Homo sapiens: one gene and its partners. The protein of the gene in region 3 interacts with the protein of the main gene of each other region in a pairwise test. Each region holds a gene or a part of one and is shown on either strand. Other genes may lie near its edges.

Region 1 (3,156 bases), on a different chromosome or scaffold from region 3:
ACACTGCTGCCCTGGACCCTGGAGATAGCGGACAGGAAGACCCACCCTGAGGTAGGTTGCTCAAGGCCTCGCTGCTGGCAGATGCGCGGCAACCTCGACTCTGGGTTGCATAGCACCCCATCCGAAGTGGGCCTCACAGGTTCACCCTTTTAGACTGGGGGCGCAGCTCACTGAGGCTCCTAAAGCACCTGGCCCAGGGCCTGGCCCATAGTAACTGCCTGGGGAACCTCCAAGCCTTCAGGCCCTGTACACTTGCTCTCTGGGTGGGGCGTCCCTAACCGAGATGGGGGAGAAGGGGTCTCCCTCCCATTTCCTCATAGGTACCGTTATCTGCTGTCCACCATATCTGCAGTCCAGCACAGTGAGGTGGCAGCCAGTGTTGCCTGGACAGGCCCTCCCCCACCCAGGGATGCGCAGTCGCCCCTCACCAGGTCAGGGAAGTATGGCCTCGCAAAGGACCTCTTGGGCTGCTGGTCAGAGGGGATGTTAGTCAGCTTCTCCAAGCAGAACAGCTGGGGAATCTCGATGATGTCCTGTTCCACCAGGCCCAGCTCCGTCTTCAGGATGTCACGGTTCAGGTGAATGCACTTCTGTGGGTGGGTGGGTGGGTGGGGGGGGGGGCGGGGGAGCAAGGAGAGCTCATCAGGAATTAAAACCAGTTTCCTTCCATACTGAAGGTAGGTGATGGCCTGACACCACTACCATCCCCATCACTTGCTGTGTGCCAGGAGCCTCACACTTCATACCAGCCTTACGAAATAGGCAGTTCCCTTTTCACATGGGGAAGTAGGGGCTCAGGAATGGCCTAGTCTTTAGTCCAGGATCCCATGGCTAGACAGCGTCTGGCACTTCTCAACCCAGACCAGCTGAGCCCAATACCCAGGCATCTCCCTAGGTCTTGAAATAGGCTTCAGACATAACCCAACACACCTGTCTCCCTAGGTCTTGAAATAGGCTTCAGACACATACCCAACACACCTAAGCTGTCGCCAGGGGCTGGGAGATGCTGTCTCAGCCCCATGCCTGGCTGGCACCCACCCTGCTATGCCAGGGGGGCTGTTCTTGCAAAACAGGGTACCCATGCACTGTGCGGGGCATAGAACATTCCTTGGGAACATTCCTGGGAATGTTAAGGACCCAGTGAGAGAAGCAGTTTTGCTGACCATGCAACCTCAGCCAAGAAATTACCCTTCTCTGGGCCTAAGCTTCTCCTTCTACAAGTTGGGGAGACTCTGCTTCTTATAGCCAATGATTCACTTCTAAGATCTCTGAAGTTTGGTGACCCTGAACACCATCCTCGGGACTGCTGTGATGGGCCACTTCATCCAGAAAGCATTGAGTAGTCCCTCGTCTATTTGAGTCTGATACTCAGCTTCTCGGAAGTGAGGAGCCGGCTTCTTCAAGGAGGCTGCGGAGCTATGTCATTTTCCGGGAAATGGACCCCAGGCAGCTTGAGTATAATGAGCAACACATGAACTTGGGAGTTCAGACTCATTTTCCCAAATGATTGTCCTGGGCTAGCGGTTTTACTGTGTGCCTCACTACCCTCATATGTAAGAGGTGTTTTACTTTATAGGGCTATCTGCAGGGTTTGTAGTTTTATAGGGCTATCTGCAGGGTTTGTAGTGAGGTATCTCGCAAAATGCTTGGGCCATCATTGGCTCTCAGCTAGGAACCTGGATAATCAGGGCTTTCCCAGCTTGGGGGAAAAGATCCAGCTGCATAGTCATAGCAAAGTAAACTCCCTCTGACAGTATCTGCAAGTAATATCTGTCAACGGTCCCGACATGCCATGGCGCTCCTCCCTGCCCCTGTCCCACCCTGGGTCCTCAGCCATCTGACACCATAGAAAGCTGTGTTACCCACTTCCAGCCCTCTTCCAAGCATAAAGGTACATCGTGCTGTGTTTGACTCCAGAGACCTAACTCCTTACTCCTCTAGTCTCCCTACATTGGCATATGGCCAGCTCTAGCCCCAGACCTGGGCCTGTATCAAGACCTGGAAGAAAGGGTGGCAGGCAGCTGCCCCCCGCCGCCCAACACTTCACCCCTCAGGAGGGGTGGGTGGAAACCTTCCTGCAAGACCTGCGGCACCAGCTCTTTCTTGGGGATGGCCCCCTTCACACTGGTCCTACCTCCACGTATTCATTCTGCTTCTTCAGGCTTTCATCAGCCAGAAGTTGGTCGATGGTTTTGGCTTCCCTTCCTGTAGGAAGAAGCGGGCAGCAGGCCTGCTGGTCAGGGAATGGCAGCACTGCCCAGAGCTGGGCACACTCGGGCCAGGCCCAGCCACCTGGGTGCATTCCTGGGCCAGTGACCATGGCGAGAGGACTGGCCTATCTCCAGGGATCACACCCTCAGGTCCAATATCTTCCTTCTGGGGACTGACCAGGGTCTACACCAGAACTCCCAGGCAGGACTTACTGCCACTGGCCACTCTGTCCCCAGCATGAGGGGGAATAGCCTGTGCCAGGCTGAGGGACACAGCCTAGAGCTTGTTAGGATGACTTCAGCCCCTACTCCCCTTATGCCAATACAACCTGGCACTTTCTGCCTGTGACCCTCTCCAGGTTACATTACCTTTGTTCCTCAATTGCCTGATCTTTGGGACAGGGATGCCCAATTTATTTGCCAGCTCTGAGGTGATAGTCTTTGTCATGTGGTTCATGCTCAGCAGATGTCACCTTCCATGGTGCTTCTATGACCAGGAGTTCCCGGGCCCCAACCCCAAAGGCTGAGTATCCAGGAGGTGTGGAGCAGGGTGGAAATTCTACATTTTTAACAAGCTCCCAGGTGCGCTGGCCCTCAGATAACACTTTGAGTATTGAGGGTCTAGAAAAACCTAATACCCCCAGCCCCTTTCTGGGTTCCTACAGCCTTTATTATTTTTTGAGATGGAGTCTTGCTCTGTGGCCCAGGCTGGAGTGCAATGGCACGATCTTAGCTCACCGCAACCTCCACCTCCCAGGTTAAAGCGATTCCCCTGCCTCAGCCTCCCGAGTAGCTGAGATTACAGGCATGCACCACCATGCCCGGCTAATTTTCGTATCTTTAGTAGAGATGGGCTTTCGTCATGTTGGCCAGGCTGGCCTCGAACTTTTGGCCTCAGGTGATCTGCCCGCCTCAGCCTCCCAAAGTGCTGGGGTTACAGGTGTGA
Region 2 (3,654 bases), on a different chromosome or scaffold from region 3:
CACACAGACTCTTAACACGTTTGACCACATAAAATTACTTGTCATTTCCTGAGTATAATTCCATGCTGTTCCCTCTGTCTGGGAGTGCCTTTCTCCACTTGGCCCAAGGTATTCTTCCTTTAAAACAGCTCCCTGAAAATGGCCCTGATCCTCCCCACCCCCAACATCCTCTGTGATCCCAAGAAATATCTAATACATGAGTTCCCAGGGCACCAATGACAGGTGTGCCTCCTCCAGGACACTGCGGAGTCCCTGCCCACACTCTACTTATTTCAACTTCTTTGCTTCTTTCTGCTCATCTGCTTTCTCTCCTGCTCAATTACTTGCTAAATGGCAAAGGACACCGAAACCCCTCTTCCAAAGGTTGTAACTGTTATAGCCAATAGGCACACGAGCTCTGTGTTTCTACAATTTGTAGCCAAATACTTTTCTTTAAAGGGCTGTTAGCCCAGAATGAGTGGAATAAGCCCTACCTATTTGCTCTTACCTTTTCTATGTCTTCTACTAGCCTGTCTCCTTTTCTTTGAGAGAGAATATAGGGTAGGAGAGCTCCAGCCTGACTCCAGTCAGGACCAGAGGGAAGTGAAGTGACCTCAGGCAAGCCATGCTTTCAGTTTCCTCAGCTTCAAATAAGAAGAGAATGGACCTCATGGATAGCACACTTACTGCAGTGCCTGGCATGTAGCAGAAGATCAGTAAATGTTATCTAATATTTGTTCCCTATACCTTAAGCTGCCAGTGACATCCTGATAATGACCCCTGAACTAAAGAGTTTACCAAGCCAGAGTGCAAACAGCAGTTGCTGCACAGGATAAGTGGTTGTAGACAAAATTACAGTAATAATGGAATTATAGTCAACTCGTGACAATAGCATGAACTACACAAAATTTGGCCTTCTGATATAACTTTCTACTTTTCTAGTCAATAATTTCTCCATTAATTCAGAATTTATAACGCTTAAATTTACCATTTACTGTTTTTTTTTTTTTTTTTTTTTTTTTGAGACAGAGTCTTGCTCTGTCGCCTAGAATGGAGTGCAGCAGTGCCATCTCGGCTCGCTGCAACATCCAACTCCTGGGTTCAAGCAATTCTCCTGCCTCAGCCTCCCGAGTAGCTGAGATTAAAGGTGCCCACCACCACACCTGGCTAATTTTTGTATTTTTAGTAGAGACAGGGTTTCACCATGTTGGCCAGGCTGGTCTTAACTCCTGCCCTCAAGTGATCTGCCCACCTCTGCCTCCCAAAGTGCTGGGACTACAGGTGTGAGCCACCGTGCCGGGACCCTAAATTGCTGACAAAAACAAAAATTAATAAGCACAAATTCAAACAGAGTTCTATTTAAGATATATTTCCTTTTTTTTTTTTTTTTTTTTTTTGAGATGGGAGTCTCGCTGTGTTGCCCAGGCTGGAATGCAGTAGCACAATCTTGGCTCACTGCAACCTCTGCCTCCCAGGTTCAAGCGATTCTCTTGCCCCAGCCTCCCGAGTAGCTGGGATTACAGGCACATGCCATCATGCTGGCTAATTTTGTATTTTTAGTAGAGACGGAATTTCACCATGTTGGCCAGGCTGGTCTTGAACTCCTGACTTCAAGTGATCCACCTGCCTCAGCCTCCCAAAGTGCTGGGATTACAGGCGTGAGCCACCACAGCCAGCCAGTTATAAGAGAAATTCTCAAAACATTTTTTCTTTTTTTTTTTGAGACAGAGTCTCGCTCTGTTGTCCAGGCTGGAGTGCAGTGGCGTGATCTCAGCTCACTGCAAGCTCCACCGCCCCCGGGTTCACGCCATTCTCCTGCCTCAGCCTCCCGAGTAGCTGGGACTACAGGCACCCGCCACCATGCCCGGCCAACTTTCAAAACATTTAACTGTCGGGCAGACACAGTAATCCCAGCACTTTGAGGGGCCAAAATGGGAAGATTGCTTGAGGCCAGTGGTTCAAGACCAGCCTGAGCAACACAGCAAGACCCTGTCTCCACGAAAAAAAAAAAAAAAAAATTAGCTGGGCATGATGGCACACACCTCCAGTCCCAGCTACTACTCAGGATCACCTGAACCCAGAAGGTCAAGGCTGCAGTGAGCTATGATCATGCTACTGCATTCTAGCCTGGCCAGAGTGAGACCCTGTCTCAAAAAAAACAAAACAAACATGTAACTGTTCAGGAACTATATTTACATATCATTTGTGTGTTATTACCTATTCAACAAAAAAAATTTTTACAAAACATTTTGCCAAGCTACTGGTTACTGCATGTACATATCTGAAAAGAATAAATGACCCACTTGTGGCTGGGCGCGGTGCTCACGCCTGTAATCCCAGCACTTTGGGAGGCCGAGACGGGCAAATCAGAAGGTCAGGAGATCGATACCATCCTGGCTAACATGGTGAAATCCTGTCTCTACTAAAAATACAAAAAAATTAGCCAGGCGTGGTGGCAGTCGCCTGTAGTCCCAGCTACCTGGGAGGCTGAGGCAGGAGAATGGCGTGAACCTGGGATGCGGAGCTTGCAGTGAGCCGAGAACACGCCACTGGACTCCAGCCTGGGCGACAGAGCGAGACTCCATCTCAAAAAAAATAAAAATAAAAAAATAAATGACCCACTTGTAAAATAGCCTATTAAGTCAGAAAGGGAATCACTCAAATTAGTCCTATACAATAAAACTATGTATTTACATTTACTCATCACTTAATGTCAGATTAAATATGTGTATATGGCCTCCCAAACTGCAGAGCGCAGTAAACAGATCAAGAAAAGAGAGTATGGCCAGGCGCAGTGGTTCACGCCTGCAATCCTAGCACTTTGGGAGGCCAAGTTGGGCGGATCACCTGAGGTCAGGCGTTCGAGATCAGTCTGACCAACATGGAGAAATCCCGTCTCTACTAAAAATACAAAAAATTAGCCAGGTGTGGTGGCACATGCCTGTAATCCCAGCTACTCGGGAGGCTGAGGCAGGAGAATCGCTTGAATCCGAGGCAGAGGTTGCGGTGAGCCAAGATTGTGCCATTGCACTCCAGCCTGGGCAACAAGAGTGAAATTCTGTCTCAAAAAAAAAAAAAGGGGGGAAAAGAAAAGAGATTATGACTTTTTTTAATTCCTCACCTACTTCAGGACCTAATACGGGATTTCAGGCAGCTGGCATTGAACAAATTTGGCTAATGCAAATTAAAATCCAGTTTCAGAAGCTCCTTGGAGCAGTCCTACAGGGGGAGGTGAAAGAGAAAGGGTGGAATGCCCATGGATAGTTTGGCCTGGGTTCCTGTTCACAAAGTGACCACACATGATATGATGGGTATGGTTAACTAGGAACTGAGGAGATGGAAAGGACAACAGGACCTCACAATCTCTGCTAAAAATGCAGGGACTAACAGCTAGGCAATGTTACCAATGCAGTGATCCCCATGCTAGACTGGGCTTTTTAAAGATATTCTCCTACTCACTGATTCAGAAACTCTAGTGGTAGGATCCACTGTATTTTTGAAAACCTCCCCTAGTAATTCCAACAATCAGGCAGGTTTAACAATCTTTGTGTAGCCAGGCACAGTGGCTCATGTCTGTAATCCCAGCACTTTGGGAGGCCAAAACAGGCGGATCACCTGAGGTCAGGAATTTCAGAACAGCCTGGCCAACACGGTGAAACCCCATCTCTACTAAAA
Region 3 (2,937 bases):
CCACCAGTCACAGCCAGTCATGACAAGTCAAAGTCGGCCAACACAGGTCAAGATCGGTCAAGTCCAGTCAAAACCAGTTACGGCCAGTCTAAACCAGTCAATTTAATTGCATTGTTTTGAGACAGGGTTTGGCTCTTTTCTGGAGACAGACAGGCTGGAGTGCAGTGGTGAGATCTCAGCTCACTGCAACCTCCACCTCCCAGGCTCAAGCAATCTTCCCACCTCAGGCTCCTGAGTAGCTGGGACTACAGGTACAGGCACATGCCCCCACACCTGGCCAATTTTTGTATTTTTAGCAGAGACGTGGTTTCACCATGTTGCCCATGCTGGTCTCGAATTCCTGAGCTCAAGCGATCTGCCTGCCTCGGCCTCCCAAAGTGCTGGGATTAAAGATGTGAGCCACCACACCCAGCCTTAAGTGCATTTTAAAGTTTAAGTATAAAACAAACTTATTTTAGGTCAAGATGTTATATAGATGATGGTGTAAGTGATATGCTGTGGGGGCTGAAATTGTGAGGATTAGAGTCAAATGGCTGAGGTTTGAGGAACATGTTCCTGGGCAAACCCAGCTCCCAGCCTCTATCCCCTCAACCCCCACCCACACAAGCACCTCACATCTTGGTTTGTTCAGTCGACAGTTCATTTTATTGATGCCCACTCCAGGCTGCATAGGGTTGAGGGGTGTACAAGAGGAGAACCAGATTCAGTCCATGCCTGGAGGTTAGTCTGGGGGGCCGGCGGGATGGACACACAGACAGACACATAGATCTGGCATCTGATAGCAGGGCATACAGTCTCATGTAGGGGCACTCTGGGCACAGGTAGTCAGGAAGGACTTCCTAGAGAAGTCCTCACAGGGGGTGGGGGAGCAAGGAGCAAGGCAGCCATCAGAACCTTCGCCTTTTGTACATTTGTAGGCAGGTGACTTTTGAGACCAGTGGAACCAGGGTGAGCACAAAGGGCTGGGGTCTGGGAATGGCAGGCAGCAAGGGCTTCCCTCTCGCCTCGTCATCCCATAGTGGGGAAGCCATCTCCCCCACCCCCAATTCTTGGCCTGTACTTTGCCTTCTGCCACATGGGCCCTTTCCTGGCATCCACCTCCGTGGTTTTCAAGGCTTCCCTGAGACAATCCACGTGGACCAGGTGCTCTACCCAGTGCCTGGCACCTCATCACCACCCCATCAATGCACATTCTTGTCCTAAGTGCTATCTACGGACTATCTAGATCTTGGTTCCAGCTCTGAGTGGTGTCAGCGGTCATGACACCCCAGGTCAGGGCCCCTAGCAACCGCAGAGCTCCCAAGAGCCCTAGGTACCTTCACTGCACTGTGAAGGCAGAGCTTGGTCCCAGCCTACCTCCAGGGCTGGCCAGCTCTGCACTGCCTTCCTCTCACTGCTCAGTGGCCCATGGACACCCACTTCCCTTCCAGTGGCATGTGGGCATCCACTTCTCAGATATGCAGCCCTGAAGAAGAGACCCTACAGCTCTTAGGGCCAACACTACCCAGCACTGTAAGCACGAGCAGAAACCAGCCTCAGCCCGTAGCCCAGGGACCCCCTTTCTTTCACTAGTACAAAGTTTCTGTGGTTGGGGAACCAGCTTCATGTCGGGCTAGGCACTCTGGCCTCTGATGTCTGCCTGCTCTGGGGTTGCTTCCCCATACCTTTGGGGCAGCAGGGAGGAGGCCTGCAGCAGACCCCTCAATCTCCAGGCAGAAGCAGGTGCAAAAACAAATATATTCTGGGGCTGGGTTGGGACTCACCCCTTGGACCTCCTTAATAGGCCATGAATCCCAACGACAGAGAGTCTTGATGTTGAAAAACTATTTCTGAAGGTGGGTGGGGGTTTGTAAGTGCAACCCACAGATGGGGCTGGGACAGGGAAAGGGGACTCCTGGAGTCGGTCCTCACCACGGCCACAGCCCTGAACGTAGAGCAGGTAGGAGCAGGTGGGGGCAGGTGGAGGCAGGCGAGGCCCTGGCAGTCATTCTCGACAGGAGGGCAGCAGTGGGGGAGGTGCATGTAGCTTCAGGCCCCCTCAGTCAGTCTGGCCTCAGACTTCTAAGGGCTAGAAGAGGTATTTGCGGCAGGACTCAGTCCCACACTTGCATTCAATACGGACCCGCTTCTTAGGGGAGCCAGGGAGCCCAGCCAGGCCAAAGTTGGAGTCCATGCGGGTGCTCTCCATGTCCACGGGGTCCACTGTGGAGTCACAGCCAGGGAGGAGAGGAGGGAAGGAGGCAGGGAGGGAGGGGGAGAAGGAGGGAGGGAGGAAGGTAGGGAAGGAGGCAGGGGACTTGTTAGAAGGCCTGGATGAAGGGTCCCACTACCCTTTATACCATGAGACCAAGGATCTTTGGGGCTGGGAGCAACTCTGGGATTTGAGTTGGGAGATCTTAGGGTTGGTGGTTTGGGGCTAGGGCCAGGGCTCAGCACTGGAGGTTGTTCAGGCCAGGGGTTGAAGAATGCTGGGGGAGGCAGGGAGCCGTCAAGGAACCAGGAGGGTCGTTTTAGGTGTGTGGGGGGGGGCAGGGGCAGGAATAGAGGGCCACCTGGGCATCCAGAGGTACATCTGAACTCTCCTGCCAAAGACCTGCCCTTGAGGGTCTCAGAGGTGGCTAGCTTATCAAGGAGGGGACTGGCTGGAGGCCACAAGGGTGTCCAGAGGCTTGGGATGAAGAAGGCCAAAGGGAGCTAGGAGTGGGGAGGGGCTGGGGGATGAGGGAAACTCAGTCAAGACTGGAGTCAGGAGTTTCTTAACTCTCCAGGAATCTTGGGAGAAGTTGGTATGAATGCCTCAGGGTTAGGGTTCAGGGGCTGGGAATGAGGGGACTCGAGGGGTAGGCAGGGGTCTAGTAGTCCGAATGGGGGACTGGGAGTCAGGAAGAGCATCTTAAAGCTCCCGCTAAAGAATTTTCCTTGGTTCTCTGAGTGACT

What was found.
Region 1: the proteins of SUV39H1 (region 3) and PADI6 interact in binary tests that used the Homo sapiens proteins (3 or more experiments, as listed by UniProt).
Region 2: the proteins of SUV39H1 (region 3) and TRIM41 interact in binary tests that used the Homo sapiens proteins (3 or more experiments, as listed by UniProt).

What each region holds. Positions count from the first base shown.
Region 1 is NC_000001.11:17,396,120-17,399,275, reverse strand, and holds part of PADI6 (inactive protein-arginine deiminase type-6), read right to left. Parts: intron 2,206-3,156; coding exon 2,135-2,205; intron 591-2,134; coding exon 429-590; intron 1-428. UniProt on the Homo sapiens protein: Structural constituent of cytoplasmic lattices, which plays a key role in early embryonic development. Cytoplasmic lattices consist in fibrous structures found in the cytoplasm of oocytes and preimplantation embryos.
Region 2 is NC_000005.10:181,226,281-181,229,934, reverse strand, and holds part of TRIM41 (E3 ubiquitin-protein ligase TRIM41), read right to left. Parts: intron 1-3,654.
Region 3 is NC_000023.11:48,706,702-48,709,638, reverse strand, and holds the end of SUV39H1 (histone-lysine N-methyltransferase SUV39H1), read right to left. Parts: intron 2,203-2,937; coding exon 2,069-2,202; 3' UTR 623-2,068; downstream 1-622. UniProt on the Homo sapiens protein: Histone methyltransferase that specifically trimethylates 'Lys-9' of histone H3 using monomethylated H3 'Lys-9' as substrate. Also weakly methylates histone H1 (in vitro).